5 linked regions of the Homo sapiens genome follow. The protein of the gene in region 1 purifies or fractionates together with the protein of each later gene. This does not show direct contact. Each region holds a gene or a part of one and is shown in the gene's direction. Other genes may lie near its edges. The genes, in order: NUDT6, MMAB, NRGN, BOLA3 and GLDC.

Evidence for each region.
Region 2: the proteins of NUDT6 (region 1) and MMAB purify together in Homo sapiens (affinity purification with mass spectrometry; one large-scale study listed by BioGRID and IntAct). This does not show direct contact.
Region 3: the proteins of NUDT6 (region 1) and NRGN purify together in Homo sapiens (affinity purification with mass spectrometry; 2 studies listed by BioGRID and IntAct, with this or other methods). This does not show direct contact.
Region 4: the proteins of NUDT6 (region 1) and BOLA3 purify together in Homo sapiens (affinity purification with mass spectrometry; 3 studies listed by BioGRID and IntAct, with this or other methods). This does not show direct contact.
Region 5: the proteins of NUDT6 (region 1) and GLDC purify together in Homo sapiens (affinity purification with mass spectrometry, with the first as the bait; one large-scale study listed by BioGRID). This does not show direct contact.

The regions. Positions count from the first base shown.
Region 1 is NC_000004.12:122,912,179-122,917,080, reverse strand, and holds part of NUDT6 (nucleoside diphosphate-linked moiety X motif 6), read left to right. Parts: intron 1-4,457; coding exon 4,458-4,513; intron 4,514-4,902. UniProt on the Homo sapiens protein: May contribute to the regulation of cell proliferation.
Region 2 is NC_000012.12:109,566,446-109,571,347, reverse strand, and holds part of MMAB (corrinoid adenosyltransferase MMAB precursor), read left to right. Parts: intron 1-2,484; coding exon 2,485-2,578; exon of another isoform or gene 2,579-3,045; coding exon of another isoform or gene 3,046-3,093; intron 3,094-3,771; exon of another isoform or gene 3,772-3,994; intron 3,995-4,180; exon of another isoform or gene 4,181-4,320; coding exon of another isoform or gene 4,321-4,337; intron 4,338-4,902. UniProt on the Homo sapiens protein: Converts cob(I)alamin to adenosylcobalamin (adenosylcob(III)alamin), a coenzyme for methylmalonyl-CoA mutase, therefore participates in the final step of the vitamin B12 conversion.
Region 3 is NC_000011.10:124,741,544-124,745,329, forward strand, and holds part of NRGN (neurogranin), read left to right. Parts: intron 1-2,718; exon of another isoform or gene 2,719-3,352; intron 3,353-3,786.
Region 4 is NC_000002.12:74,144,582-74,149,929, reverse strand, and holds the start of BOLA3 (bolA-like protein 3), read left to right. Parts: upstream 1-2,017; 5' UTR 2,018-2,055; coding exon 2,056-2,109; intron 2,110-4,626; coding exon 4,627-4,741; intron 4,742-5,348. UniProt on the Homo sapiens protein: Acts as a mitochondrial iron-sulfur (Fe-S) cluster assembly factor that facilitates (Fe-S) cluster insertion into a subset of mitochondrial proteins. Probably acts together with NFU1.
Region 5 is NC_000009.12:6,534,849-6,539,131, reverse strand, and holds part of GLDC (glycine dehydrogenase (decarboxylating), mitochondrial precursor), read left to right. Parts: intron 1-2,895; coding exon 2,896-3,068; intron 3,069-4,283. UniProt on the Homo sapiens protein: The glycine cleavage system catalyzes the degradation of glycine.

The DNA.
Region 1 (4,902 bases):
GGCATTATGACCTAAATGGAAAATTCCAGAAAAAAACTCTTAAGTTTTAAATTGCATGCTGTTCTGAGTAATGTGATGAAATCTCTCACCATCCTGCTCTGTCCCACCAGGCCGTGAATCTTCCCCATATCCAGTGTATCCATGATCCATAGGCTACCTATCCATTAGTTACTTAGTAGCCTTCCCTGTTATCAGATCAGCTGTCCCAGTATCACAGTACTTGGATTCAAATAACCCTTATTTTCCTTATTAATGCCCCGAAGCACAAGAGTAGTGATGTAACACTTCGAGACTATGGTTGACCTTGTATAACTGAAATCACAGAAAGCAAAACTGGACAAGGGGGACTACAGTATCTATTACATAGTGCTTTTAAATAGGACTATTACATAGTGCTTTTAAATAGATGAAGTTTGCCTCAATCAGTAGACAGACGCACAGAGAACAACTTTAGTGTTTAGTTTTCCAAAGGATATGCTTGAATATATTTTACACATATAATTAAACTTCACTACTCAAATAGTAGCACTGAATTGGGATCAGGGAATAAATTTATTGCAGAGTAAAACATGTTGGCACTAATTATGTAAATTTGTAAAGTAAATGATCATTTTTATGTTGAATTTCAGGTAAAGCAAACCAATTTTTCAATGATTTGAACAATTACTTCTTAATAATATTTACATTATTGTGCCAAACAGTTGTTTAAAATCGTGTAATTTAAGTGTAGAGTAGAATTTTGAAGTGGCTGATTAGCTTCAGAGACATAGGAAAGTTGAGAGAAGACTTCCCTCAGAGTAAGACACAGATTCTCACATTGTAGATTGCATCAAAATCACCTGGAATCTTAAAACAGATTGCTGGGCCCTATCCCCAGAGTTTCTGATTCAGTAGGTCTATGGTGGGACCTGAAAATTCAGGTGATCTTCCTGGCTGTTTCTGTTTTTGCTGCTGCTGCTGCTGCTGGTGGTGGTCTCAGTACTACCCTTTAAGGACCAAAATTCTTAGATTTCTAGAAAAACTATAATAGTAAGGGATCCTTATGACCTTAATAAATGAAAGCAATGAAGCATATTAGTTATTTAATTAATAATTTTATTTGCCTTTATATAATTTACAAGAGTTTTTAAGGTAGTTTGCTTTTCAAGGCTTTTCAAGGAGTTGTTCAAGAATGCCTAATGATGTCTTCTCTGTCCCTGTCTTACTTCCCTGTAGCAAGTAGACATTCAGAAACTCTCCGTTCAGCTCTATTTCAAAAGATTCTACTCAATAATTTAGTGACAGCCTCACACTTCAATGGAAAGTTATGCAAATAATTATCATTCACGGGCACAGACTCTTAAGAGTTCCCAGTTATTACTACAGAATTGGTAATATATGCAAAAAGAGTATCCTATGAAGGGCCTGTTGATAACTAAGTACTATATTGTATATTGTACATTATAGTTTAGAGTGTCAGAGCAGTTCAAAGAATAAGAGATGCAGAACTTGACCAATCTTGAACACTAACTAGGATTTGAAGCCACTGTTGGGGGTGTGGACGAGGTAATGTAAGAAATTGTTCTGGAAAGGTGCAGAGTTGTTTTTTTTTTTTTTTTTTTTTTTTTTTTTGAGGCAGGGTCTCACTTTGTCACCCAGGCTGGAATGCAGTGTCATGATCTGGGCTCATTCCGACCTCCACCTCTTTAGCTCAAGTGATCCTCCTGCCTTAGCCTCCCAAGTAGCTGGGACTACAGGCATGCGCCACCATGCTAGGCTAATTGTTGTATTTTTTGCAAAGATAGGGTTTCGCCATGTTGCCCAGGCTGGGGTGCAGAGTTTTTAGGTGGAAAGAAAAATAATTGGCATTTGTTATAAACTACCGAAGGCAGATGTGGCTGGAATAGCTGGAGCCATTGCTTTCTTTTGCTTTTCAAACTTAGCAAGCTTGTGTCTGACTCAGAGCCTTGACATCTACTGGCTCCTCTTCCTGCAGCATGCTTCTCCAGAACTTTCTTTATCTAGTTCTTCATAGCCGAAGTTTCTGCTCAAGTGTCTCCTTCTCAGAAAAGCCCCTGACCCTTCTGTTAGAAGTGACTTCTCCCTGCACACTAGTGCCATCATTCCTTGTCCCTTTATCCAGCTCTATGTTTCTTTATGGCATTTATCACAGTCTGAAACTCTATTATATCATGTATGTAAATTAATTATATTGTATCACTTAATCTCCCCCACAATAATATAAACTCCATAAAGGCAGATATTTTATCTGTCTTGGTCACCACGATATCCTCAAGCTAAAGACAGCGAGTGACATAAAGTAGATATTCAATATTTTTTTAATGAATGGGATGGAAATGTGAGTCTTCTGAGAGAGAAGTTTCAGTATTGTTGAGGGGCAGCATTGCACAGTGAGAAGAGTGTGCCTGCCTAGAATCCAGACAGACTGGCTATCAGTCCCAGTTCTACCAGTTAGAGCTATATGAAGCCAGACACTCATATCACTCACAGGATTATTGTGACTTATACCTGAGCTAATGTACGTTGAAGCACAGTGCCTAATCATAATAATAATTTTTATGTTGTGACCAGCAGAGGTCGCTCAAATTGTGCTTTAGTGGTGCTGGTTTTGTCTCTGATACTGTGCTCATGTTTACAGTGAATTCATTAGGGACAAGTTCAATTTGAGTAACCACAAATTATTAAAATTTAAGAGTAAGTTTCCTTGGCATTTCTTTGGCAGTCTACCTCTTGTAAAGTCCAGTTAAATTATAGCTTACATTTTCTAATAGAAGCCAACATTAATGTTAATTATATCTCACTTGGTGATTTTCCTTCCTGCTTTAAAATAGTCAAGTGTGGTGTTTTCATTTCAATTGCATTTCAATTACTTTTCCCCATGTTACACATATTTATTCCTTCTCTATATTCTACATAGCATTTATCACCTTCTAATATTCTATATAATTTATTTTTTGTTTGTTTTGGCGCCTCCCCACACACATACCAGAATGTGAACCCCATAAGGATAGGGAGTTTCATTTGTGTTGTTCACCACTGTATCTGTAGCACCTAGAAAAGTGCCTGGCACATAGTAGGAGCTCAATTAATATGCACAGGATCTATGTACATTATATAGAGGAACTCAGTTAATACTGAAAGCATGGACAAATATGTAGAAAGTATCTTTTAAAAAATGTCATCCCACATTATTTAAATACAAGTAATGTTTAAATCATAACATCTAAAAGATCATAATAAAAATCACTAATACGTCATTTGTATTTTTGACCCAAGATTGCCCAAAGGGAAATATTTTTAAAAAGAAAGAGAGAATATGCAATGTGTATGATGAATGAATAAACAAAAAAAAATGAACTAGAACTTAAAACATATATAAAACAAAGAACTCTTCCAAAGCAGTATATTAGTAGATTATAAAGTTGTGTATATACATAATAAGAAAATTTAATTGGCTTCAGAAAGGTCTTGAAATGAATATTGAGATATTTGAGATTTGGATCATCAGGGGGCACAGCCTGTGTTGTATGCATAGTGATTCAAGGAATAAAAATGAGAAGTCAATTCATTTATTCAATAAATATTGTAAGCACATCTGTTGTCTGAATGTTTGTTCCCCCTAAAATTCATATGTTGAAACCTGATCCCCAATGTGATGGTATTAAGAGGTGGGGCCTTTGGGAGGTGACTAGATCATGAGGGCAGAGCTCCCATGAATGGGATTAGTGTCCTTATGAAAGAGGCCTACAGGAGCTTGTTTGCCCCTTTCACTATGTGAGGACAGGGCTAGAAGGCATCGTCTGTAAAGAATGAGCCCTTATTAGACACTGAATCTGCCAGCACCTTGATCTTGGACTTCCTAGCTTCTAGAACTGTGAGAAATAAGTTTGTTGTTTATAAACTATCCAGTCTGTGGTTATTTTGTTATAGCAGCCCAAATGGACTAAGACAGGCACTTAGTGTCTTCATGGATGAGGTGGTGGTACAGCTTGACCATCCCCAATCTACAAATCTAAGATCCAAAATGCTGCAAAATCCAAAAGTATTTGAGCACTGGCATGATGCCACTAGTGGAAAATTCCATACCTGACCTCATGTGACAAGTCACAGTCAAAATGCAGTCAAAACTGTTTTCATGCACAATATTATTTAAAATATTGTATAAAATTGCCTTCAGGCTATGAGTATAAGGTGTATATGAAACATAAATGAATTTCATGTTTAAACTTGGGTCCTATCCCCAGGATACCTCATTATGTATATGAAAATATTCCAAAATCCAGAAAAATCTAACACTTCTGCTCTGAAACATTTTAGATAAGGAATACTCAACCTGTATTTGAACCAAGGCTTCAAGTATGGGTAGAATTTTTATCACCACAGATAGAGAGTGTGGGAGGAGATTAAGGTGAATGAAATTAATATTTCTCAATTATCTTTTCTTTTTCCCCTAATAGGAGCTGTATTTGATGAAAGTACTAGAAAAATACTGGTTGTACAAGATCGAAATAAAGTAAGCTGCTTCTGTTTTATAAATTGCTTCCTAAATGTTTATTTCTTTCTAGAGAAGAATAAAATATAGAAATTTTAATATGCCTAAGGGGTTATAGAAAGGTATTTTAAAAATCATTTCTAAGCAGTTATGGATCACCTTAGATATTTATTTAAACCAAACTACTTATACAGACCTTGAAAATTTCCAGGTAACACTCAGTGTTACTATCTATTACTTTATGGCTAAAGGAAAATTATAAATGACTGTATTTAATTGGGAAGACAAGTCTGCTTTAATATATTACCAAGATATTCTTCCATTCATTCAGCATTCAATGAGTTTCTACTCTGTGCCAGGTGCTGAGAATATAAAAAGCAGTAAGACGATATACCTTATGCCCTGCAGCT
Region 2 (4,902 bases), on another chromosome or scaffold:
GAACTCGGGAGGCAGAGGTTGCAGTGAGCCAAGATCATGCCACTGCACTCCAGCCTGGGTGACAGAGCAAGACTCCATCTCAGAAAAAAAAAAAGTCTCAGAAAAAAAAAGTATGATATTTGACAGATCTCAAAATATGTTACAAAAATGTAATGTGAAATGAAAAACACCCAAGAGATATTAAATGACAAAAGCCTGAATCTGTCTGGATAAGCATGTACATATATGTGTGTTCAGGTGTGTGTAGAATAGTCTGAAAGGTTACACCTGGGACTGTTCTGGGAGAGAGATTAAGTTGTGAGAGGGGAACAAACAGAAGGACTTTCACTATTTACATACTTTTATTCTATTTTATTATTTTTTATAATGAGTATATATTACTTTAATAGTTTTTAAAATGCTAGAACATGTTATATAGAAAAAAGTAAGATGCAGAAGAATGCGTTGCTATGATCCTTTTTTTTTTTTTTTTTTGATACAGGGTTTTACTCTGTCACCCAGGCTGGAGTGCAGTGGCTCAGTCATGGCTCACAACAGCCTCCACCTTTCAGACTCAAGCAATCCTCCCACCTCAGCCTTCTGAGTATCTGGGACAACAGGCACACATCGCCATGCCTGGCTAATACTTTTTAATTTTTTTTGTAGAGATGAGGTCTTGCTGTGTTGCCCAGGCTGGTCTTGAACTGCTAGGCTCAAGGTATCCTCCCAGCTCAGCCTCCCAAAATGCTGGGATTACAGGAGGCATGAGCTACCGCACCAAGACAGTATACCATTTTTTGTAGTACAAAAGCATGCAGACCACTAGTATGTATTGTTTTTTGGATATATACTTGTATAGTAAAAGTATAAAAGCATGTACGGGACATACTCAGTGCCACTGAATGGTAAACTTAAGAAGGGTCAAAATGGTAAAATTTCTGTTATGTATCATCTGTTACCACAATTAAAAAGAAGGAAGAGGATGTTGGAAAGGACTTATTGTAGGGTTGGGCTTGTGTTGGGTGGTTACAAGGAAGTGGGGCTTTGTTCTGGATTGAATCCTGTTAGGAAGCAGGGCTGTTTCTGTCACTGGGTATCTTTTTTTGTTTTTTGAGACAGGGTCTAGTTCTGTTGCCCAGGCTGGAGTGCAGTGGCACGATCTCAGCTCACTGCAACCTCCTGGGTTCAAGCAATTCTTATGCCTCAGCCTCGCGAATAGCTGGGACTACAGGCATGCATCACCATGCCCAACTAATTTTTTCTGTTTTTAGTAGAGACGGGGATTTGCCATGTTGGCCAGGCTAGTCTCGAACTCCTGGCCTCAAGTGATCTGCCCACCATGGCCTCCCAAAGTCCTGGGATTACAGTGTGAGCCACTGCACCTGGCCTGTAATTGGGTATGTTAATAATTTGTTTCTAGAAGACAGAAGGGACAAAGAGGTGCTAACGCTGTAATGGATAAAGATGCAGCAGTCACTCACATTAGCCAGGGAAGGGGGAGGTTTGGTCATCTTTTGGAGTTTGGACACAGTCGTCTGTGCTCAGACGTTCTTCCGCAGTGGCCTTGTCTTGGTCTCGAACCGTCATAGTCATAGAGTGGCCTGTCTGATGGTTTTCTGTGAAATGGTTTGTGTTCAGCAGAACACCACAGTCTACCTGTGAGTGCCAGGCCGGCACCTGGCAACCCCAAAGCCTGCCCGATAGCGAAAGCCAGCTCCAAACTGTCAGGGGCAGTTTTCACTTTCTCAGAGGTTGGGGGAGAAAGGCGGGACTGTGAGCTAGGCAGAGGCACAGAGGACTTTGACTTCATGTGAAATATAATGGTAATGTATATATGATATAAAATATAGAACGTGTTGTATTTCTTTATCAGGATGGTTAGTATGTGGTTTTTAAGTTGAAAAGCACATCAGGAAAGAAGTGAGCATAGTGGCTAACCCTTGGGGAGTGGCAACTAAAAGGGGTTACATGGGGGCTTTCAGGGTGTTGCTCATGTTCTGTTTATGAAGCTAGGTGCTGATCAAGGAGGTATATTCAGTTAGTAGTAATTCACCAACTTGCACACTTACGATTTGAGCACTTTTCTGTGTATATGCTATATTTCAAGTTGAAAGTTCTTTAAGGGGTGGTACGGTGGCTCATGCCTGTAATCTCAGCACTTTGGGAGGCTGAGGCGGGTGAATCACTTGAGACCAGGAGTTCAAGACTAGCTCGGCCAACATGGGCGAAAACCCGTCTCTACTAAAAATACAAAAATTAGCCGGGCATGGTGGTACACACTTGTAATCCCAGCTACTTGGGAGACTGAGGCATGAGAATCACTTGAACCTGGGAGGGGGAGGCTGCAGTGAGCCAAGATCACGCCGCTGTACTCCAGCCTGGATGACAGAGTGACTGTTCAAAAAAGAGAAAGTTCTTTAAAATCTTTGAAAGTTTAAAAAAAAAAAAACAGCATATCAGGAAAACAGAATCTTAATTTGGGTGGCTAAACATTTTTTTCCACAGGGTTTTCTAGTACCTTCACAGGAGAAAGGAGACCCAAAGATGACCAAGTGTTTGAAGCCGTGGGAACTACAGATGAATTAAGTTCAGCTATTGGGTAAGGGGGACAGGATTGGCCTTGAGGTTGCGTTTGAGTCGAGTATGAGTAAACGTAATGAATGTGAAGCTCTCACGCATGCTGGGCAGCAGCCTCGGAGGTTGTCAGCCCTTATTGAACTTTCCTCAGCCCTGAAGCACAGGCTGGTCAGCTCCACAAGGCTGTGGGGCTGCAGACTCCTTTCCCTTCTGGCCCTGCCTGTGCCTGCGCTGGCCTCTGGCCCATGCCATGTGAAGCTGCCTCCCTCTCATCCCTCACTTTTCAGGTGAGCCTGTGTGTGCCACTGAGGTTAGTATACTGAGTGAAAGAGGTGAGTTAGTATAATGCACAGTACATCCAATGTGATCCCTTTTGTGACTGTTGTTTTTTACATAAGCCAAAGTTTAGAAGGTGGACTCAAGGATGGACCAGATCAGGATGGGCCAGGTCATGCTGTGATCACAGACAACCCCAAAATCTCCTGACTTATGACACCAAAGATGGACTTGCTGTTCCCACTTCATGCCCATCACAGGGTATATTCTTTGGCTCCATGCGGCCTTCATTCTGGGACACAGGCTGCTAGTACAGCTGCTGCCTGGGGCAATTATCAGTCATTGTGGCAGAGGGAAAAGAGGTCATGGTGAAGCTCACATTGGCTCCTGACGCTGCCAGGGGATTGTGCAGTGTCAGTGTTGTCGCCAGTGAGGTTTACCCAAGATGTGATTATTGCTGATTGAAAACTTTTCCCACTACCCCACCATGATGACTTGAAATATAGTCAACATTGGCAGTTTTTGACAGTCTTTATGGAGACTAAACTTTGTTGGTAAATAAAAGTTGAAAAAAAAATGACTAGGTGCAGCGGCTCACATGTCTAATCCCAGCGCTTTGGGAGGCCGAGGTGGGAGAATCACTTGAGCTCAGGAGTTTGAGACCAGCCTGAGCAACATAGCAAGACTTCATCTCTACTAAAAAGAAAAGTTAAAAAATTAGCCAGGCGTGGTGGTGCACACCTGTAGTCCCAGCTACTCAGAAAGCTGAGGCAGGAGGATCACTTGAGTCTGGGAGGTTGAGGCTGCAGTGAGCCATGATCGCACCACTGCACTCCAGTCTGGGTGACAGAGTACGACTCTGTCTCCAAAAGACAAACCTTTCTTGGGAATGATGCCTTCCATTTATTCACATTTCAGCGGCCAGAGCCTGTCACGTGCACATGCCTGACATCAGCGGGGTAGGAGGGGCAGCAAATATTTGCAAGCAGGAGCACAGTCTGCCCAGCATGCCCTACAGGCTGGTGACAGGGGGAGCAGCAACAGTCTCAGGTGCTGGATCCTGAAATCTGACCCCGGGGCCCTGGGGTTATAGGTGCATGGGAGCCAGACAGACCCAGCTGCAAATTTTCAGCACCGCTGCTGATTGTCTCTGGGACGTCAGGTAAATCACGTGGCCTCTGTGAGCCTCAGTTTACGGTTCTGTCAAGTAGTCATCATGATAATTCCCATCTCACTGTTCTTGTGGGGCTTAAATGAGATGATTCCATGTTTCACCCTGAGGACAGTGCCTAGCACAAGTAAAAATAATGTTAGCTATTATCACTCTTCTTTTTTTTTTTTTTCCGAGACGGAGTTTCGCGCTTGTTGCCCAGACTGGAGTGCAATGGTGTGATCTCGGCTCACTGCAACCTCTGCCTCCCGGGTTCAAGCGAGTCTCCTCATTATTACTATTCTTAACACTTACCTGTTCCTGGCTACCATTTCTCCATGGCGGGCCTGACTAGGTGAGATTTTCGGGACAGATAATGGGAGGTACAGATAGTCAGCCAGCCGGGTAGAGAAGGCAAACAAACCCCTTGGTGTGTGTGGGAGGGGGTCCAGAAGAGGGCAGACACAAGACCAAGTGGGCAAAGGGAGAAAAGGCCAGTTCTCGCATCAGCTATTCTAATGAGCTCTAAAACACGAGCCATCGTCTCTCAGTTGAGGAGGAGCGGGAGGTTGGAGAAACCTCAGTTGTGGATTCTTCCTTGGTCAGATATTGACCAAGCATCTGCAGTGCGAGGCGCTGCTCAACAGAGAACCTCAGCCCCGCCTTCCTGAGCTGCAGAGTGCAGGGAGCAGAACCTCAGCCCCACCTTCCTGAGCTGCAGAGTGCAGGGAGCAGGCAGCACTCACTGGGCAGCTACGAGGGTGGGAGCAGGCTTGGGGCAAGTGCCCAGGGTGGGGCCTGCCACTGGCCTGGTCACGGGGCATCCCTCGGCAAGCAGGTACTTCTGCACACCTCCTGTGAGGCAGGCATGGGGCATCCGCTATGATGGAGACAGACTGTGTCCCAGCCTGCACAGCCCT
Region 3 (3,786 bases), on another chromosome or scaffold:
GAAGCAATTTTTTGGTTGTGAAGGGAGAAATGGGCTCCTCATGGAGGTTCCTGGGCTCCACTGAGGAAGAGCCCTTCCTCCCAGCAGTGTTGTATAAAGTAGAGAAGATAAATGGATGGTGGGTTCTGGGAAATGAGCTGGGGGGAGGGGAGAGGTGAGGATGACAGGGGAGTATTGCTGGGGAAGGGGAAGTGGGAGACGTGGTCACTGGAAAGAGGTGAGTAAACAAAGAATCCAAGAGGCCAGGGAAGGAATGGAATTGGTCTCCTCTGTGTCTGCAGTAGTAATTAGAGTAGGATGTGGGGGTCCCTGCCTGGAACTGTTGCTCTTGAGTGCCCAGGGAGCCATACTGAGGGATTAGTAGACATGGTTGAAGTCAGTGTCCCTTAAAAAAGGAGAGGCTACCCACCCAAAAGGTAAAAGAGAAGCAGATACACAATTATCTCCATGGCCCAGGGCCTGGGGCACCTCCTCCAGTGCACCCTGTGCACAGGAGCCTTCCCAAGTCATGCCCTGTCCTAGGTCTGCAGGGCTAAAGGGCTGAGCAAGAGAGAGCACCATTATCAGACTGTGCAGGAGGGCAGGAAGAAGAAGGAGTGATGTGTGGAGGGTTGGGGAAGGGCAGGGCTAGGGGTGGGCATTTTCCTCCCCTTTCTGTGGAGGGCTGGACTCAGTGCTGGGAGAGAGCTGAGATGTGTGGGAAGAACAGCATACCTCTTGGGGGCTAGAGGCAGGTCCTTCTTCATCTTTTGATTCTGGAGCTCTCCTCACTGACCGCATCACCTGGTGTTTGGGAAGAATCTAGTCCTGTCTTATTCCCGTTTCTCCTTGGTACAGAGGCTCAGATAGAAATGAGGAAGAAGAAAACAGATCTGCCTATTTTTTTAAGAGACAGAGGAATGGTTTTTTATTCATGCTGATTCAAATATTGCAGTTGCTGATTTACATAGCCATATATATATATGACTTTTCCTGCATTCACCGCGCATGAAAAAGCGCATGAATTTTTTTGGATCCTCATTTCTTTTGCTTAGTCTAGTTGGCTTGGCCCTGCTGAATTCATAGAAATAATTACCTGCCCTGAGGCAGTGGCTAGCAGCAGAGGCTACTGAATCCCATCACTTCACTATTTGTCAACTGAGTGACCTTAGCTAAGTTACAAAATGTCTCAGAGGCTGTTTCCTGACTTCCAAAATGGGGATTAAATGAGGTAATATATGCAAAGCGCTTAGCACAGGGCCTGACATAATAACAAGCAGCAAGCAGGGGATATCCTTAAAGCTATTCGGATTTGGGAGCTGAAGGAGACTTTGTTCATTAGTTGTGGCTGAAGAAAATGAGACTCTCAGAGATGAAGTGATGTGCCCAGTTGGGACTAGAAGGCTTGGACCCCACTTTGCTGACCAGGGCACCTTCCACCTCCTCCTCCCTCCCAGAAGTCCCTACTTCCTATGGAACTGTCAGGCACACACCAGCAACCTTGGCTTTGGAAAGCACCAGCCAGGCACCATGACCAATGAACCTCTTCCCAGGTCCTTTCAATCTCCTTCCACTTCCACCTGTGGACTGGCCACCTGGCAGCTCTGTCCTGAAAATTCAGCTGGTAGGAGAGGGAGCTGGTTCTGGGGAGGAACATGGAGTGTCGGGGGTGGCTTTGCCTGCTATTCCAGGTTTCCATTCTGGATCCAGCTGGGGCGGGCGGTGACAGCAGGTCGGGTCTAGCGTGGTTGGAGGCAGATATCCCTTCCTCCACTCAACCTTCCCACTCCTCCACAGCTGCGAGGCCAAGGAGGAAAGGTAGGTCAGGAATGCTTTTTTATGGTTGTCACCCTCTTGAGAAGAAGCCTCACTGTTCCCTGAGGATATCCCAAGAAAGACTTGAGCTCTAAGAATAAAACATTCCAAAGGAGTCTTTTCTGAGCACCCTAGACCTGTGTTTGGCCTTTCCACAACCATACCTGCCTTTTTGTAACTCTTTTTTTCTTTCTGTTTTTTTGACTCTTCTACCAAAATGTAACTCCTTTTAACTGTGTTTAAATCGATTATGGGCATCTTGAGCACGAATTGAAGAATGTGAAGCCCAGGAAATGAGGCTAACCTTGGGAAACATGGCGAGGGGAACCATTTATAAGCCGGGGCTTGGGCATCTGGAGTTTAAGCTTGTGGTCCTGGGGCAGAATCTGGCTAGGACAGTGATCACTGAAGCCTTCCTCATATCCTGTCCACTTCTATGAACCGGATGGATGATGGCAGGGAGAGCTAATGTGCAGAACTGAATTACCATTATTATGTGAAACCTTGGTCATCTCGTGTCCTAGAAGAAAAAGATAGTCAAAGCAGTGGAAGACTTCATGAAAAGAAAAAAAAAAAGAAGGAGGCAAATTCCTAGAAGCCAGTGAGCCAGATCAAAGGAGAAATGTCCTTCTAACTTCATAGTAACCATCCCCATCCTGACCCACACTAATACTGCAAGTAATGTTAATGCAACAAAAGGGCTCAGAGGCTGAATTCCTCTCCGTTCCATAGCCTTTCCTCTGCAATCTATACCATCAATCCCCTCACGCCTTCTACTTTCAGCCAGGGCAGGCTGTCAGAGAAGCAGAAACCTAGTTTGGGGCATAGAGGTGGGCCTGATTATTATTAGGTTGAACCATATGAAATTGTTATTATATGACCACTTTTGGCCTACAAAAATGACTATTTCACATTAACTTAATGTTATTTTTAAGACAAGCATAAAAGCTACCATTTATTGAGCAGCTAGGTTGTGCAAGAGACTTTATGCATATCATGCTGTTTATTCTTCCCCACGACCCATAGAGGTGGATACCATTATCCTGATATTTTAGAGGAAGGAGCTGAGATAGGAAAAGATTAGATAACTTGCCGAAGGCCACACACCTATAGCAAATGGTAGACCTTGGCTGGTTGACTGGGCTGCATTTTCTTATCCTACAAAGTAGGGGTAAAAATATATATTCTGGACTCTGAAATACAAAGGTTTGAATCTTGGGTCCACTGGTAACTGTCCGTATGACCCAGGTAGGTTTTTAAACAGTCTAATCATTAGTTTTATTAGGGGTAATGATAAAAAGGTACGTAATAGCTTTATTTTGGGGGACTAAATAAAATAATGCCTGTAAAACACCGTTATTGCACCTGGAACAAGGTAAGTGCTTAAGTGGTAGCTATCACCATAATTCCCTTCTTCCTCATAAGCACACCCTGGAAAGGGCTTCTTGCTCCTGCAGGTCTTTTCATTTTCTTTTCTTTTTCTTTTTTTTCTTGGAGTGAAGCCTTTTCTTTATCACTTCATCCAAATCATCTCCTATCTCCTGTGTTTGAGTTCATCCTTGGGCAGTGGAAAATGAAGAGTCAATGGGAAAACAATCTCTGGGCCTCTAGCCTTAGGTCGGGGGAGGCTGGCTCACTGACTAGTATCCCCATCCTCTCCCTAATTCCAGCTGTGAGCTTTCTGCATTTCTACTGGGGAGAGGGCTGGCGGACTGAGGCTTCTCCATCCTCTCCACGGAAAACCCTGGACTCAGACTGGGTCCTTCTGAGCTGGAGGTACCCTCTGAGAGCAGGGGGACAGGCGGCCACTCCAGGAGTGCCTGCTGCTGTTTTCCTTGCCCCTCCAAACCCACCCTCCAATCAGCTCTGCAGACCCCTAACTCGGTGCTGGTGATGGGCCTGGCTCTCCCGCACCCAATCCTGCCTGCACTTCTCTTTCCTGAATTGAGACATGACTGTCCACCTGGCCCTGAACCTTCTTCGCCTGTCGCT
Region 4 (5,348 bases), on another chromosome or scaffold:
ATCAGTGCGCCTCGGCCTCCCAAAGTCTTTGGATTACAGGTGTGAACCACCTTGCCTGGCCAAAAGTACCATTTTAAATAAAGAAAAGGAGGAATTCTGCCAATACAAATCTGTGAGCTTGCCATGGGTCACTTGGTTACAAGTGACAAACCCATTAAACTGCCTTCAGTGCTCATTTCCAGCATTGCTGGTTTCCAGCTGTACAAAGTCAAACATTTGTCTCCTTTTATCTGTTTTCTTCTTTATCTTGCTTCATTTCCAAAGTAGTTCTCCCTGCATGGTTGCAAAGATGGTTGCCAGCAACTCCAGCCTTTCTACCAGCTTAGCAACATAGAGGAAAAAGATCAATGTCTGGGAACAACAGACACTGGGGAATACAAGACTGGGGAAGGAGGAAGGGGGCAAGGGTTGAAACTACCTATTGGGTACTATGCTCATTACCTGAAGGACGGATTCGTTCATACTCCAAACCTCAGCACCATGCAATATACCTCTGTAACAAGCCTGCATATATACCCCCGATTCTAAAATAGAAGTTGCAAAAGGAAGTCCCTCTACCAATTCTCATTGGTCTGGCTCAGACCATGGGGCCGACCCTAAACCAGTCTCTGATTAGCCAGACTTGGGTCCTGTTTCCATTCCTAAAGCTGGGGATAGGTGCGCCTCATCTAAACCATGCTGTCTGAATAGCAAGGGAATGGTTCACCATTACTACCCTGCTTGAGAAAAAATTTTTTTGACAGTTTAAATTGCATCATTGACAGCAATGAAGAAAACTTAGCAAATCATCTCTAAACATTTTAAAAGAATGAAGCAGAAAATGTAAGACAGGCTAGTAATTGATCCAAAGGAGAAATTCTGAAGGCCAGAACATAGGAGTCAGTTAATACTGTAATAAATAAATTAGACAATATCCATATATAACAACTATAGGTCCAATCCATCCAAGTGCAACGCTGAAGGGACGTATTGATTGCATAGGCCAGAATGTTGGCAAAAAGCTGGTAAATCCTGCAGGGTGCCACCAGACCGCGTGCTGCAAACAAATAACAGCTAGAGAGAGGAGAGGCTTGGTTGAATTTCGGCCTTGACTGGTCTGAAGACTCCAGAGGCGGGACGAATTTGCGGACAGTTCTACCCCATCCCACATGGCGTCAGCTTCCCTTCCATTCTCATGACTCCATGGTCCATGGCTCCAACCTGGGCCTCTGTTAGGCTGTGTCCTGTGGCACCTTAAACTCAGGCAAATTAAGAACTGTTCGTGGACTCTGCTCAGCCCCCACCTAACCCTCCATCCAAGTCATTGTCCAAGCCAGAAACTGGAGTCATCTCAGATACCTTCCCACTCACACCTCCACATGCAGTCGCTCGATTCCATTCACCTCCCAAGTGTCTCAGTTCATTCTTCCATCCCTCCCGCCACTGGTTTAGTTAGGCCCCTCCATTCTCACCTGGACCATCGCGGTAGCCTCGGAGCTTCTGACTGTGTCTCTGGTTGCAGCCCCTACACGCTCTCTTCCTTACAGGAGCGGAGCGATCTTTCTCAAGCGCGAATCAAATCCTTCCACGAGTCCCCGCACCTGGAGCGAAGGCCAAACTCCTCAGCTTAGAAGCTAGACTGCCAGAGTAGGGAGTGGGAATGGAAAAGTACATCAGGAGCACGAGGGGTATTCGGATGAGGGAAGGCCAGTATAGGGCGCCGAGACCTTGGAGTGTTTCTGAGCTGAGGAGGAATGAGACTTTCACGCGGGCAAGGGGACCCTATCCATGAAACAGGCCCTGGGGAGACTGAAGGAGAGCGGCGCGAGCGAAGGCAGAGGGCGGGGCCCCGAGGTCGGCAGGCGCTGCAGTGTCGGGGGTGGCGAGTCAGCCAGGGCCAGGGGATGGCGGGGTGGGGCCGGAGCCAGGCGACCGGAGGCCTCCGGGGCGGGGCCGGGAGGCTGACGGCCTCCGGGCGGCAGGGGGCGGCCTCTCCCACGGCGGCGGCTCTCGGTCCCCCGCTCCGCGTCTTTCGGGCATACAGTGACCTCGGGCGGCGGGTCACGTCGGCCGGGCATGGCTGCATGGAGCCCGGCCGCGGCAGCGCCTCTCCTCCGCGGGATCCGCGGGGTGAGCGTGGGCAGGGTCGGGGCTGCTCTCCCCGGGACGGGAGCTGCGGAGGGACCGCGGGGCCGGCGGCTGTCGGGGCTTGAGGACTGGCTCCCGGAGGGCGCGCGCGGCACTGGCAATGGGGGGCTCCTCTTCCTTTCTCTCATTCATTCTTTCATTCATTCATTCACTCAGCGACAACGGCATTCGAAATTTCAAGCTCTGGCGCGCTCTAGGGGAGCTCCCGAGCTGGGTGGAGGTTGGAGGTCAGGCGGACAGACACATGAACAGTCATAATACTGCGGGCACAGGAAAAAAAAAGGATTGGTTTACCGAGCAGAAGACAGGAGTCATAGCCCAGAGTCAAGGCGTGGGTGCGAGGGACTGCAGCGGGGCCGGGGCCTTGGGAAGGTCGACTGGGCCTCTGACCTTGATCCTCCTCCAAATCCCACACTACCGGAGCAGAACCCAAGCAGGGGGCACTTCCCACGCGCTCTCCTAATCTCTCCCCCTTTCTGAACCATCCTTTGCTTCAGCTCATACCATTCTTTCTCTTAACTTTCATTTTCCTTCTCCCCTGGTTCTGAACCTGCCTGCCCTGTGCATGAAGAGAAGTTCTTCCACTGCGGTGACTTTCAGCGTGGACAGTGATCATCTGGGGATGTCAGTTGATTGTTCCACTAAAGGCCGCTGCCCACAGATCCGCTAAGATGAAAGGCTTCTCCCAAGGATTCTGCAACGCTCACCTCTCTCACCCCTTAGTAGCTGCCGATTCTGTCTGCCATCTGGTTACTCTCTGCCTTTACCCTCAAGATTCTGCCCCCAGAAGCAGCTCCACCCCACCCTCACTCCTGGCAATCCTGTCCAGCCTCTCAACATCGAGTTTCTGTCCCTCCACACAGCAGGCAGACAATCACACTCTGGACCTTTCTCCTGTCTTGCATTTCTGTCCCTAATTGACTAGTTCTTCCCCTGCTCATTCATTCATCCAGCACCAAGTGCCTCTGAGGGCCTGCCCTGGGGTCAGCTCTGGGATGCTGCCGGACTCATTCCTGGCCTATAAGACCAGTGGTGAGAGAGCCAGTGCACAGCTCATTTTAAAGGAGGTGCTCTGAGATTCTGTGACACAGGACCCTGCTCTGAGCTATCAGGAAGGACTGAGGGGTAGAGGGGTGGGACCTTCAGCACCAGCACCCATGAACGGCCCTAGTGTCCTCCAACCTGTCATCCACGTCTAGTCAGGGACCAGTGCCCGGTGCTTCCATCATTGTAATGCCTCTTACTTGGGCATCTCTCCTGACTCGCTCCAGAAGGCACTGTTTCCTGCAGGTTACTTTGGTCCCATGAGCCTGGGTTCTATCACCTGGAGTCCCATCTCCTGTCCCATACAGTCCACAATCTTTAGCCTGGCATTCAAGGCCTGCCACACTCCATTCCCAGTCTGCCTTTTCAGCATGCACTCAGCCCAGCCAAGTGACTGCCGACCTGCTTTTCTGCTCCTTCACTACTAACTGTTGAGACGTGTTCCATCAGAAACATGGGCTCCCCTGGCCGGGCGTGGTGGCTCATGCCTGTAATCCTAGAATTTTGGGAGGTTGAGGTGGGTGGATCACCTGAGGTCAGGGGTTTGAGACCAGCCTGGCCAACATGGTGAAACCTCATCTCTACTAAAAATACAAAAATTTGCCGAGCGTGGTGGTGGGTGCCTGGAATCCCAGCTACTCAGGAGGCTGGGGCAGGAGAATCGCTTGAACCCGGGAGGTGGAAGTTGCAGTGAGCTGAGATTGTGCCACTGCACTCCAGCCTGGGTAACAGAGCAAAACTCTGTCTCAAAAAAAAAAAAAAAGGAAACACAAACACAGGTTCCCCCATGGTAGCCATTGGGGAAGGGGTGTTGTTGCCAATGGTAAACAACCTACAGATACTCCTTCTTCAGGTTCTTTCATAGAATTCTGACTTTGCTCCCAGTGAGAAGGAGTGCATGATGAAGGATAGCTGGCTAATTGAGCAGTGGGCTGTGAGGTCACATCCCACTGGGGAGGGCGAGACATGTTAATCAGGCCTAAAGGCGAGGGAGTGTGGAATTTGGCCCCACCATCCAGGGCAGTGGATGGCCTAGTGGTATGGATCTGAGGCAGGCTATCCAGCTTTTCTGGCTCTGTATCTTACCGAATTCAACCTTGGGCACATTACTGTGTGCCTCAGTTTCCTTACCTATAAAACTATCGGCATAATAGTGTCACAACATTATATGGAAGCAAACATCTCTTGAATTAGGTTTGGGGCCTCTTGTCTCTGGAGTCAAATTGAGTTATTAACAATCATCCTGTCCCCGCCAATAAAAGTTTATTCTGTGTTTTGGGGCACTTACATGGACTCCTGATACCACAGAGCCCCTCTGACATAACCCATGGCTGTGCTGGCGAGGGCTCAGGGGCCTGCCTTGCAGGGGGAATGGCAGGCGGGCCTGCACAGTGGCCCAGCTCAGGGGCAACAGCATCTTCCTCTGCCCTGACCTTCCTCTCTGTTCTGTGGCAGCTTCCACTTCACCATCGGATGTTTGCCACTCAGACTGAGGGGGAGCTCAGAGTGACCCAAATTCTCAAAGAAAAGTTTCCACGAGCTACAGCTATAAAAGTCACTGACATTTCAGGTAAGGTTTCTCTCACTCTTCCTACGGCGCTTGGATAAGATTTTGCCCTTTGGAAGGACAGAGGGTCAGGGGCTTGGAGGAGGGGGCTTGCTGCTGGTGAGTGGCTTCTCAAGATGTGTTGCTGCTGGACAGGTGGAGCTCGGCTGCCCCCACCTCATGGGATGGCAGTCAGGATTCAGAAATATCAGAGGGAAACTGAGGACAAGGCGCAGCTGGGAGGACTCAAGGTTGCCAGCCTGGCTCAGCTCAGACAAGGTCCCTCTCAGTCACCCTAGAGCTGAGGTCCACAGTCTGTCATTTGACTTTGAATAGGTTTTGCTCTAATTTTCCCCCATTCTTCTGACACCCTAGGATATCAGAGCTGGAGTGGACCCCAGAAAGATTTTCTTCAGCTGCTTTACTTTCCCTAAGAGGAAATGAGCCCAGAGAGGCCAAAGGAATTGCCTAGCTCCTCATAGGGAAGAGACAGTGGAACTGGAACCAGAACCGGGACTCAGGGGAGACTCTGTCCTAAGCCCAGTTACCAGCCCCAGCCAAGCGCTGTCCTTCTCAGGTGGCCACTGGCACCTAGAAGTTCAGGCTGGCAGTGTGTTAGGAGCAGGCTGGA
Region 5 (4,283 bases), on another chromosome or scaffold:
GCTAAGTTGGGGAGAACATTGCCATTCAATGGATATGGAGTCCTCTCTGAGTTTTAATGACTTGTTTTTGGAAAAAAAGAAAAAAATCTTTTAAATTTAATAGTTTCACTACTGCATCATAATGGGAATCCCATGTGTGTGACTCACTCCTCTCTTGAATGAATGATCTTATTATGCAGTTACACTGATAATAGATGGGAAAGCCAGAGAAAGGCTTCATTAATGAAATTACCAATCCCATCCTCAAGATCTCTGCTTGGCAACTCTTGTAACCTGACAGTAGAACTCCTTTCCCCTGACAGCCTCCCGGCTAGCGATTGGGTAATGGCCGACTCAGGAAAACACACTCACTTTGTGGATGCCTTGCCTACTTCACACATCTAACTGCAACAGCATTTGCAAGGAGAGAGAGGAGGGGCTCACAGGGAGGTGGTAACTGAAGTCACCACCCAGTGTTTCTGAATCATGTTGTCTCCTGACCTCAATGTTGTTTTGAAGATTGATAGAACCGTTTCCACACTTGTCCAAAAGCCCAGAATTGTCCAGGTGCCTGGCACATAGTAGGCACTCAACACATAGTGTTAATAAATGAGAGACCAAATGAATAGCTAAGTCGAAAAACAATGAACATGACAACACAGTTTCCAGGTCTTAAAGCATAACCGCTGAATGTGAATTTTTAAGGAAGAGAGCTGATAATCTGTATATTTAACACGCAGCTTCTGTGTGAGTCTTTTCAGGCAATTTTGGGGCATACTGCCTTACCCAGCAGTTCCAGGCTAATTATCAGACCAATTATCAGAATCACCTGGCATGTTTTATGACTCATAGATTTTTGGACCCTACCTTGGACTTCCTGAATCAGGGCCCAGATGCAGGAATTTCTTTTGCAAGAACTTCTCAGGTGGTTCAAAATATGGGGACCACTACAGCAGGATATGTTGGACTGAATTTGCTCACACATGGAATTAAGGGCAGACGTGATAGGTAATCAGCTTGTTCTCTTAAAAAAAAAAAAAATCCCTGTCTGGTTTGAGTGACAAAGGTGTATGCATTTACCAAAACTCATTAAATGGTACAGTTAGGATTTGTGCATTTCACTGTAAGTTTTATCACAAAAATATGTGAACAGATACTGAATTCTAGTCATGATATATATGCTGAAGGGTTTAAGAGTGAAGTGTACTAATGACTGCAGTGTACTTTGAAATGCGTCAGAAAGTAAGACGGATGGCTGGATGAGTAGATGTGATAAAGCAAACAACAGCATTGTAGAATCTAGGTGGTGGGTATATGGGTGCTCACCTACAGTCCTTTCAACTCATCTGGATGTTAGTGTTTTTTTTTTAATAGAGACAAGGTCTTACTCTGTCACCCAGGCTGGAGTGCAGTGTTGTGATCTTGACTTACTGCAGGCTCACCTCCTGGATTCAAGTGATCCTCCCACCTCAGCTTTCTAAGTAGCTGGGATTACAGGCACATACCACCACACCCAGCTAATTTTTGTATTTTTTGTAGAGACGGGGTTTTGCCATGTTGCCCAGGCAGGTCTCAAACTCCTGGGCTTAAGCAATCCGCTGGCCTTGGCCTCCCAAAGTGCTGGGATTATAGGTGTGTGAGCCACAGCACTTGGCCTGAACATTTTTAAATAAAATGTTGGTAGAGAATGTTTGAAATCATGCAGATGTTACTTTAAAGTACTCCATGTAATAATGATGCTCACCAGAATTTGAGAACCACTGCACATTGGGGCAAGATTAGTTCAGAGGTGTATCAACCTGGGAGTTGTTCTTCAGCTTTTAAAAGTTTCATAGGCCTGGTGTGGTGGCTCATGCCTGTTATCTCTGCATATTGGGAGGCAGAGACAGGCAGATCGCTTGAGCTCGGTAGCCCGGACAACATGGTGAAACTCTGTCTATGCAACAACAACAAAATTAGCTGGGCATGGTGGCGTGCACCTGTAGTCTCAGCTACTTGGAAGGCTTAGGTGGGAGGATCACTTGAGCCCAGGAGGTTGAGGCTGCAGTGAGCCGTGAGTGTGCCAGTGCACTCTAACCTGAGCGATACAGCAAGACCCTGTCTCCAAAAAAAAAAAAAAAAATGCTTTACAGAAAAATTATAAGAAATGAAAATGTTGTTTTTGATTTTTGTCCTGGAAATCTGTCTCTTGACTACATACCTTGTTGCACTACCTTACATGTGAAAACCTTTGGAAACAGAAACACACTGAGCCTGTGTTCAATGTAAAGGCAAAGGCTTTCCACATACTGGCCAAACTTCAGTTTCCTTATCATACAAAATGGGGACAATAAGATTTGCTCCAGAGTCTTTAACACTTGTTATCTCATTATTTAACTTTTGATAAGCTATAATATTTTTATTTCTCTTAATTGCACATAATACATGATAATTACTGAAAGACTCTAAAATACAATCGAAGTGAAAGAAAAATCCCAGTCTCATTTTCCGGCCATATTTAGAGTTAACATTTTATGTTTTCTTCAAGGCATCTTCCCTCATAAAATACACATATAAGTACTTTGTCCTTTTATTTATATATAGAAATGGGATATCATTATGTGGCTTGCTTTTTTCACTTAATATTTTTGAATGTTTAGCCAGTTTAACACATTTATGTACTTTTGAATGGTTGTCTATTTACCATATAGGTGCTCTGTAAAATTTGCTTATCTGATCCCCCATTGTTGGATATTAGGTTGTTTCCTAAATTTTTCTTCTATGAACAGCACTGAGATGAGTCCCCACATACATACATTTGCAAATGTATCTGATGATTTTCTTAGGATAAAATATAAGAAGGGATACGAACTTTTCTTCCAAACTGGGTAGGCCACTGACCTTCAGTGAGGCAAGTTCTCCTGTCTCCCTTTGCAGGATTTCACGCCCCTACCATGTCCTGGCCTGTGGCAGGGACCCTCATGGTGGAGCCCACTGAGTCGGAGGACAAGGCAGAGCTGGACAGATTCTGTGATGCCATGATCAGCATTCGGCAGGAAATTGCTGACATTGAGGAGGGCCGCATCGACCCCAGGGTCAATCCGCTGAAGGTGCGTAGGCCCTGGAACATTGCTTGAAATGTTCCTTAAACTAGAAAATGATGTCTGGACAGTGTACCAGCAACTCCCGAACTCTCAACTGAGGATGATACTCTTCCCTAGAATAAGGTAATTCTTCTGAGAAGATGCAGTTGTTACTTTGAAGTTTCCATCGTCTTGAACAGCATAGCAGTTACTCAAGGATGATGTGGTTGTGGAAGCTGTCCACAGCTGTCTAGTTGGAGAATTTGTAACATTCTGCATCTCTGTTTGATGTACTGTAGTGAGATTATGGCATAAATAAAATTTACATATTCACATCACAAACTCTGTACAAGCACACATTCTTATATTAGAGCAGTTATCTCTGAGAAAACTGGATTGACATTTGGACTGGATGTTACAATGTTTATGCCCCATGTTGGGGAAAAGTTGGTTGGGCATTACTCTGCCGCTTCCAAAACATGTTAATTTTACATCTGGTCAGAGTCCTAAGTTTCTTGTTAGTCCAGATATTAAGCTGGAAGATCAGGAGTGGAGAATACCATGAAGGCTGTGGTTGTGTCTTCATGGCTGTAAGCCAGAGAACAAGTCTGATATGACTGCAGCAGCTGGGGCAGGTTTCCAAACTGCCTACCTGTAGGAGAGGGCAGGGACCAGTGACTTGCAGAAGGCAGGCACCTCTCTAGAGGTGAGTTCACAGAGTCATGGAGGCATACAAGATGATTATGCTTACCACCGTTTATTACTCTTTTCTCTCTGAAGACACCTGCTTCTTTCAGGATTTAGGCTATTTTTTTAAATGGCAATAAACATTTCAAAGAGCATAATAGTGAGTTATAATACAAGTGGATAATACCACTCATATGATGATATCAGATTTTAAAATGAGCCAAATTATGCTATATGCAGTTTATTAACATATGCAGTAATAGTATAAAAGCATGATGAGAATGGTAAACACCGAATTCAGAAGAGTGGTTAGCACTGGGATGGGGATATACAGGCAGCACCAAACGTGTAGGTAATTTTTTCTAAAAGATGAAGCAAATATGACAGAATGCTCATTAGACTTTACTGGGTGGTGGATGTGATGATTATTACCATAACGTTCTGATATTTAAAATATTTCACAATTATAAATCACATTGTACCCCCCTAAATTGAAAGAAAACAACAGCTTTCTCTGCCTGGGCTCCTGTCAGAAGATTGACGGTTGAGGTGCAG